Linked DNA regions of Homo sapiens. The protein of the gene in region 1 purifies or fractionates together with the protein of each later gene. This does not show direct contact. Each region holds a gene or a part of one and is shown on either strand. Other genes may lie near its edges.

What was found. The genes of interacting proteins can lie anywhere in the genome.
Region 2: the proteins of GDF10 (region 1) and MTHFR purify together in Homo sapiens (affinity purification with mass spectrometry; one large-scale study listed by BioGRID and IntAct). This does not show direct contact.

Annotation. Positions count from the first base shown.
Region 1 is NC_000010.11:47,305,812-47,311,109, reverse strand, and holds part of GDF10 (growth/differentiation factor 10 preproprotein), read right to left. Parts: intron 1,315-5,298; coding exon 389-1,314; intron 1-388. UniProt on the Homo sapiens protein: Growth factor involved in osteogenesis and adipogenesis. Plays an inhibitory role in the process of osteoblast differentiation via SMAD2/3 pathway. Plays an inhibitory role in the process of adipogenesis.
Region 2 is NC_000001.11:11,788,965-11,792,464, forward strand, and holds part of MTHFR (methylenetetrahydrofolate reductase (NADPH)), read right to left. Parts: intron 3,416-3,500; coding exon 3,314-3,415; intron 2,363-3,313; coding exon 2,243-2,362; intron 1,935-2,242; coding exon 1,716-1,934; coding exon of another isoform or gene 1,576-1,715; 3' UTR 496-1,575; coding exon of another isoform or gene 306-495; 3' UTR 80-305; coding exon of another isoform or gene 1-79. Other genes in the region: uncharacterized protein C1orf167, read left to right, coding at 1-79. UniProt on the Homo sapiens protein: Catalyzes the conversion of 5,10-methylenetetrahydrofolate to 5-methyltetrahydrofolate, a cosubstrate for homocysteine remethylation to methionine. Represents a key regulatory connection between the folate and methionine cycles.

The DNA.
Region 1 (5,298 bases):
AGCCTTGGTCAGGAGGGAGCTTCTGGGACCTGCCGTGTGTACAGGAAGCAGCATCTACTCAACCTCTGCAGATAGTTGCTATGTGGGGATGCGTTTCTAAAGACATGGATTCTCCTGCTTTTCAAAAGAATGTTCTCATTTTAAAGTCCCAATTCAACCAAGCCAATACTTCAAAAAACACAGCCAAACTCACACATATGTGGGCGGCAACTACCCTACGGGCTGCCACTTGGTGACCTATGTCTACCTATTTCCTGCCTGGAATAGATAGGAAGTACTGTTATTCCCATTTTGCAGATGGGGAAACAGAAGTCCTGCAGGCTGAGGAACTTGACGGTAGCGGCAGAGCTGAGCCTTAGAATTTGGCAAAAGGCGGAAGAAACCCTACCTTAGGCATGGGGAACTCACATGCTCCCGCGCAGTAGTAGGCATCAAAAGATTTCGGTGAGATTATCCATTCATTCCAGCCGATGTCTGCGAAGTCCACCTTCAGGTACCTCCGGGAGCACACCCTCGGCTCATCCCACTGCTTCCTCCGGGCTTTCTGCATCGTCTTCTCGTCAAAGTCCAGCACCTGCGAGGCGGCCATGAACACCTCCTGGCCCTTCTTCCTGCGGTCTTTGCGCCCTGGCCGGGGTTTCAGCGCCCGGAAGGGGCTGGGCCACAGCTGGTGCTTGTGGAAGTGCTGTGCGTGGGCGCGCGGCGGCCTCTCATCCAGCCCCGGCAGCTCGTTGTCCTGGAGGGGCCCAGTGGCCTGCGCGGCTCGGCGCACGCGGGGGTCCGCTGAGTTGTTGGGGGCTGCGCGGGGCTCGGGGTCTCCGGCAGGGAAGGGGTCGTATCTCTGCAGCGTCACTGCCACGCTGTTGGGCTCCGAGATGGCCAGATCGTTGGCATAGACTAGGATGTAGGGCGCATAGGGGCTGGGCCGGGGCACCCCCGGGTCCCTCTCCTCAGAATCCAGCTGGGCGGAGAGGAGCAGCTCGCCATCCCGGCGGGCCGCCTTGACGATGGGGGAGATGTCCTTGGCCTGCCACAGGCCGCGCGGTGGGGGCGCCAGGGCCATGGCCCCGCGGAGTAGCCCCTGTGTGGCCGTGTTCTGCGAGAGGCTGCGGAAGAGCAGGTGCTGGCGTGTGGGCGGGCCCAGGGGCAGCGGGCGGCCTGAAGCGTTCTTGGCCCGCGGCTTGCATAGCACCTCGAGCGCTCGAGGCCACCGAGGCGGCTCTGAGTAGAAGTGGAAAGTGGCCGTAAGGATCATTTCCGAGTCTTGCATGGAAGTCAGGTTGAAGAAATACACGGCCTTCTGGTCGACCACTTCTGTGAGGGAAGGAGAGACCACAGGCTGTGAAGTTCTCGCTCGTGCTCCTGAGGGTCTCCCACCCAGGGCTGGAGGAGCAAACGCCCACCGATCCACACTTTCAGGACCATCCTCCTCCCCCGCTTTGCTTCCCTCCTTTCGTGTAATCCTCACATGAAACTGATGAGGGCGCCCTTTGCAATCCTCAGTGCACAGGTGAGGAATTAAGGTTGAGATTGTCAATATCCCGTAGCAAACAACAACAACAACAAAAAGCAACAGCAAAGAAATAGGGGCAGACAGGGAGGCATTCGGGCCTGCTGGACTCCAAAGCTCCTGTTTGCTCCCCCTGCCCTCTACTGCCTCTGCATGCACAAATGAACAAATGTCACTGACACCTTCATTAAGTGCTCAGGATGGCTTGGGTTGGGTCCAAGCCCTGCATCAAGGCAGCCCCTCCTGTATTTGCACAGCCCTCTATTTATGCAATCAGTTTTTAAATGCAATCATTAAATACACTTCACATTAAACCCAAACATTCTTCCAAAAGAGACGAAATAAATAAACGCTCATGCTTTTTGAGCACCTCCTAAGGGAAACCAGGATCAAAAGTACAGCCATTTAGGCATCTGCTCTTTGTTCTGCCTGAGGACTTTTAAGATTGTTTTAACAAGAAAAGAGCAGCATCAGGATTACACAAGGCAACCTGACTAAATCTCCAAGGTCCAGGTAAAGACCGGGACGTCTCAACCATTACATCTGCAACTTGGTTCAAGAATGCTCCAGCTCCGGCTTCCCTGGGGCTGCCGGCCACTCCTTCCTATTTGCCTGGTGGAAGCAGGCGTTCCCCAGGGCACCAGGGCAGCACAGCCATGTCAGCAGTCCCAGGAAGCTGCCCCAACCTTGGCAGCAGCATGAGTATTGTGTCAGGTTTGAATCGCCTAAACATTATTATATATCAGTGAGCGTTCTCAAATGGCCAAGTCCGCTCTAGGCTTCTGAGGAGTGGGGAGTCTTTCCTGGTGCCTCCCTAGGATGCCGCACACTAACAGGACACCAGAGAGGCCAGGCTGGCTTTCTCCTTTCCACTGCTTCATTTCCTGACAACGAAGTGTCCTTCTGCTGGGGAACGTCTGGAGAGGAGCAGGGCTCCCAAGCCCGGGAAGTGTGTGTGGGGGACACTGGGCTCTCTAGGGGCATGGGTCAGGGCCACACCTCTCTGACCCCTGTACCTACAGCATCTGCAGGGATTTTTTTTTTTAACAGAAATATTCCACTTTCTCTTCTTTGTTTCTGTTGGGAAGAAGGCATAATTCAACTGGGATTGTTCACATACTCTTAAGGGACTATGAGCGGGAAGAAACAGAGAAGCACATCTATGGAAGGCCTGATAAATAAATGCCAGTAAAGGCTCAGGTGGCACTGAAGCCATTACCTTATTTAATCCTCACAACAAACCTGCCAGGACAGTGTCACAGCCCCTCAACATGCTCCACACATAAGCAGCAGCCCAGGGTCTCAATGCACACTTGAACCTGGCTTCCCCAAGCATGTGGCCTTGACTGCATAACAATGACTTCCACATTTTAATCAGCACTCCAGGGGACTCTGGCCATCAGGGAAGTTTGGGAAGTCAGTGGCAGCTGATAGCTCACTCCGGTGGTAGCGGTGGTGTATCTGCAGCATCTGGGGTTGACCGATGGATGGGGTGAAAGTTCACCAATAATGTTGCACCCCCCCATCCCCAAGCTAGAAAATGCCCTAGGAACCAAGCTCCCAGGACTCAGTGGCGCCACGCCCTGAACCTTGCTTTCCCCATCTGCCTCACAGGGACAACAGCCTCCATCTCACACAGAGGATTGTCTGGAAGATCACAGAAACAGCCTAGTGAAGTGCCAGGTACAAAGGAGGTGCCCCCAAATGTGCTTTCTGCCTCTTGAATCTAAAGGACCAAGGCTGGCAGAGCAAGCTCCCCTCCATCAACTGGGGTACCTTGCATTCACTGATCCAAATATCTGAGCTGCAACCCAGCCAACACAGCACATTGTTTTTCTTTGATCCAGTTCAAGTCTCAACTCCTCCATTGTTCTGCTAACAGATTCAGAGTGGGGAGGAACCTTTGAGGTTGTGCAAAAGGGTATAAGTCCTACCTCCATGTGGCTTGAATGCCTCCTGCCAGAGGGAGCTCAGCCCTCACTGGGCAGCCTGCTCTGGGAAGACCCTCCCTGCTGGGGACTGCTGGGGACAAGATGGGTCACCCCCAGCCCCAGTGCATGAGGGACCACAGGCTGGTCCTCTCTCTGGATGTTTCTGCATGTACGCAGTGCAGGGGGCTCCAGGCTGTGGCTCAGAGAAGGGACCTCAACCTGAAATCTTTCAGTTTAGCCGAGCCCAAGCCATAAGAGAGAAGCATTGAAGAGAACGTCATTATTTCCTCTGATGCGTGCTGGTGCTCTGTGATTCATGTCTTTTCTCTCTTCTTTCTTCTCTGCCTTCCTCCCTCCTCTCTTTTCTTCCCCTCTTTCCCCTTTTCTATCCACCCTCTTTTCCTTTCTTTCTTCCTCTTCTTCTCTTTGTTTTCCTGATAAAGATTTGCAAAACTCCTACTCCAGGCTAAGTTGGGCTGACCAGGGTCATAACAAAGTTGCCCAGGAGGAGTTCAGCCTAGAGGGGAGACAGATAACAAAGTTGCCCAGGAGGAGTTCAGCCTAGAGGGGAGACAGACTGGTAATGGCAATGACACCCGTCTTCAGTGTCTCCTCATGTCACAGTTTTAAAGAGCACTGTCCAAGCGAGGCCCCCGGTGTGCTGGGTGCATTCCATCACAGGTCACCCCCCAAGCTCGGAGCCCTCCATTGCCCCAAATAAAACTCAACCCCTTACCAAGGCCTTACTTGATCTGGCCTGCCTACCTCTGCAACTTTATCTCCTATCCACAGCCCAACCCCACCCCTCTGCCCCCGTCACACTGGCGTTCTTCTCCTTCCAACATGTGGCTTTATTCTCAGGACTGTGCCTCACGCTTCCTTCCACCTTCATGGTTCCCCATCCAGTACCACTCAACCTCTTCAGGTATCTGCTCAAATGGAACCTCCCACAATGGGTCCCCTGGGCTCCCGTGGCTGGAGAACAGCCTCATCACTCTGTCTGCCCCTGCTTCATTGGCCTTCAGAGCACTTCCTGACATCCTGCTGTATACTGATTTACTGCTCTTATCTTCCTAAAACATAAACTCTAACGGGACAGGGACACTGCCAGTTTTATTCACTACTGCACCGCTAGACCTCACCATAAGGCTTAGGTGACAGTTGGAGCTCAGAGATGCATGTTGAATGAGATTGTCTGTGAAAATCCTGCCCAAGTGGGCACAAGAGAAGTGTGGTCTGTTACTTCAGTTAACACTGGGGGTTCCTGGCATGCTTCCCTAGAGTGCAGTAACCACAGCCTTAAGAAGTCAAGGAATCCTCATTCTTTACAAAGATGCAGCTGATGATGCAAATCCAAATGGAGACAGTGGGCACCCAGGTGTTTAGCCAGACTTCCCCTTGAGCCTCAGTGTTCTCATCTTTAAATTGGAAGAAAATTGTTTATTAATTATGACATTCTGAGCTCCAAGTGTATGTGCTTGGTCCTATGCTGAGTGTTCTGCATGCTTGATTCATCATTTTCACCATGAAGAGAGTAGGGAGCGGTCATTCATTCTGTGGACAAAGAGCTGAAGCTTCAGAGAGGGTGTGCAATTTGCCTAAAGTCACACAGTTGGCAAGGGGTGGAGTCGGGGCTTGTACCCAGCTCTGTCTGACCCCAAGCCCATGCCTTTTGCTCCTCCATGTGTTCTGGATATGTTCATGATCTGCCTAAGAGCTAATGGACAAAGATCATGTGCTGTGAACTGCAGCACGTTTTGCAAACAGAGGTCATTATTTTGATATTTTTGAGTTCTGACTCCCTAAGAAGAGAAAGACTGACTTTATTTAGACAAGCTGATCTCAGTGGCTCTTGGG
Region 2 (3,500 bases), on another chromosome or scaffold:
GGTCCATCAGTTTGCGAAGAAGGTGTGGCATGAGGCATGGCTGCCACTCACACTAGCCCATGGAGGGCCTGGGTCCTGAGCGCCCCCTCCCTCATTTGCTCTGCTCTGAGTACAGCTTCCCAGCTCACCATCAGATCTATTCTGAGCTTGTGCATTTGGCCTAGGCAAGACTGGCTGGCTGCTTGGGGCAGAGGGAGGGGCCCTGGGGACAAAAGGAGCTGGGTACAGGGGTTGCTCTAGCAGGCACAGCACAGACCCCGGAGAAAGCCCACAACAATAGCATTTCCTCTCCTCCCTGGTTCCAGGCCTTTAAGAAGTGGCACCAACGCCTGGCAGCCAGGAGCCCAAGGAGAGGAGCTGCCAGTAGCCCAAGACCCTGGAGCAAGCCAGGCCCCAAGGGCCCCGAGAGTGGACAGGAAGCCGCCAGAGCACCGCGGGGTTGGGGGCTTGGGGCAGAGCATGGGGCCCAGCTGCAGCTGTGACTTGTTCTCATAGAATAAAAAACAGAACTGAACTTAGCCTTCCCAGGGAAGGAACCATGCCCCACACATCCAGGGAGTGATGACAGAGGGGACAGCTTGAAGAGCTCTGAAGGACAATAAAACCCACTCCTCAGTCCTAGCTGCTGCTTTCAGTCTCTCCTAGCGGCTGCCCCTCTGCCCCAGCCAGTGAGGCCAGGAAGGGAGTAAAGAGGACATCCCACAATTGCGTCCACCCCCTTGGCCATCAGGCTGCTCTTCCACTACACGAAACAGCCCATCTGCACCTGCCAGTCACTGCCCCCAGGCCCTGGGGCTTGCAGGTGACTCGTGGGGAGCCAGGCCAGGCAGATAACCTCTGGGACAGGACGAGGGGATGAGGAAGGCAGCTGGCAGGACAAGGGCCTACCTGAAAAATACACCAGGAAGCTGGGCTGCTGCACAGGCCCAGGCAGATCTGGGGCCCCTGTGCTGGCAAATCTCATCTTAGCCTCTGACAGGGAACGGGGCAGCATCAGGCCTCCACAGCCAGGCAAAAGGGGAAGGCCACGAGCCCCACCAAGCACAAGGGTTCAGACTGCCTTCAACCCTTAAGGGGCACTTTTTCTCTCAAGGCTCAGAATAGACAACTGTGCCAAAAAGCAGCATGGTAGGTGTCAGCCCAATGCCCATCCAGGGGGCTGGTGCCATGGACGGCTAAGTGGGCAGGCAGGGCAGTGGTGTGCCCCTTCAGTCACAAGTAGGTGGGGCCCAGCTGCCCACCTCTAGGAGGTGGAAGGGTACAGCACTTTGCCACATCTCTTCTACGATGCCACCAGTGCCTGATGCCCTTGCGTGTTTTGCCTGTACTGCACGGGCTCCAAGTGTAAGTTCACTGGGAGTCCCAGGCTGGCTCTGGAGGCTGCCTTGGTTCGAGGGCTTAGTTGGCAACAACCACTCTCCTCGCCTTCTCAGGAGGTGCCACCCACTGTGGTCCTCTGCAGGACGCAAGTGCTCCCCACCAAAAGAGCACAGACTCCTGGCTAGAGCAGAGAGTACTAGGTTCCCATGTGGGGCCGACTCAGGTCCAGGAAGAGCCTGGAAGCCTCACTCCAGTCTAGCTGCCATTGTCAGGTGGGGGAGTGGAGGCCGGGGTGGGAGAGACACGAAGGAGAGTGGAGTTCCCAAGAGAAGCAGCACTGTGGAGGAGGAAGGCGGGACAGGAGTGGCTCCAACGCAGGGCGTCAGGACGCAGGGTCATGGAGCCTCCGTTTCTCTCGCATTCTGGGTGGGCCTGTTGAGAAGCTCCAATGTGTCTTCCACCACCTGCCAGAGGCAGTTGTCCAGTGGGAAGTCATTGTCCACCAGGTTGACCAGGAAGTAGTTGTCGTGGATGTACTGGATGATGGTGCGGGACGGGGACTCCTCCTCATACAGCTTTCCCCACCGCTCAATCCACAGGGCAAAGGCCTCGTCCTACACACACATACCCCCGCACACACGCACACATGCACACACACACAGAGGCAAGATTAACAGGGCTCTCCAAGGGCTCTGCTCAACAGGACATTTCCCGGAATAGAACAAGGCCCACTGCCAGTATCACTTCCCACCCCTGCCCAGAAATAAACACCCTGCATCAGCAGTGACATGGGTGAGTCAGAGCTGGGTGTGCCCTGAAGGCTGGGTCCAGTGTGGCCTTCAGCACACGCTTGGGACTTGGTCCCAATCCCTCCCCACGGTTTTCCAGGTGGGCGGGGCAAGCTTGCCCCCGGCTCCTTTACCTTCCAGAACATGAAGCTGACGGGATCCACTACGGTGGGCTGGATGATCTCTCGCCCAGGGAAGATGCCCCAAGTGACAGCATTCGGCTGCAGTTCAGGGGCATTGGTGATGTTTTCACCCTGAGGGGATGTGGGGTGGGGGTAAGACCTGGGCCAAGAACAACTGGAGTCCCACTGCCTGGACAGCCTTGACTCAATGAGGCTGTCTGGGCTCAATACCCTCTGCCTGCGCCTCCACTCCCGGCCTCCACTCTCCCTGCGCCTCCACTCCCCTCTCCCTGTGCCTCCGCTCCTGGCCTCCTCTGCCTGCATCTGTGAATGATATCTCTCCCCACACAAGCCTGAACCTAGAGGCGTCCTGGCCACTTCCCCTCTCCTCCTTGAGCACCCCCTGCTCACTCTCTGATCCATTCCCTCTTGTCTAGCCCACCTCCAGGAGTGTGTTTGGCTTGGGTCACTCCAGGGGTCTCTTCACTGGCCTCCCCGGCTCTAGCCGTCCCCAATCTCTCTCATCCGTATGACTATCCACTGTGATTTGCCTAAAATAAAGCAGGAACCAAGCCACCCCACTGCTGGAGAAAGGCTTCCCTTGCATTGAGGGAAAACTCAAATTCCAGCAGGACAACCATGATCTCTGCGGGCCTGGCCCCTGCTTAACACTCCCGCCTCCTCCTGCTCATGTTCCCCGTTTCCCCAGATGGTGCAGCTCACTGCCTCTGCCTGTCCTCTGCCCTGTCCCAGGAATACCCTTCTCTCCTGTTGGCCAACTCCTCTTTGTCCTCAGTGATTCCCACAGATGACCCTCTGAGAAGCCTTCCCTGGCCTCCCAGGTGAGATATCCCTCCTCTGGACCCGACAGCATCCTCTCCTGAACTTGATTTTCCCACTTACACTGGCTGGTGGTCACACATTGATCTGCCTCCCTCACTCTAGGCTGGGAGCTCCTTAAGAGCAGGGCCCCAGTTCTGCCTGTATCTCTCTGTCTTGCACAATGCCTAGCCCAGGCTAGGTGCTGGGTGTTTGCTCAACGAAGGGCCTGGTACTCTGTGGGAACCCTGGGGCCTGGCCTACCTTCACATTGACAAGGTGGTAATTAACCCGGAGCTCGTACTTCTTCAGCACTTGCAGAAGTGCTTCCGCTGTCTCGCGGGAAGTGAAAAACTCTAAGTAGGCCTGTGGGAGAGACAGGTGCCTGTCACCAACCCCAGCCCTGCCAGACGCCCTTTCGCAGACACCTAAGGTATCAGGACTACTGGCA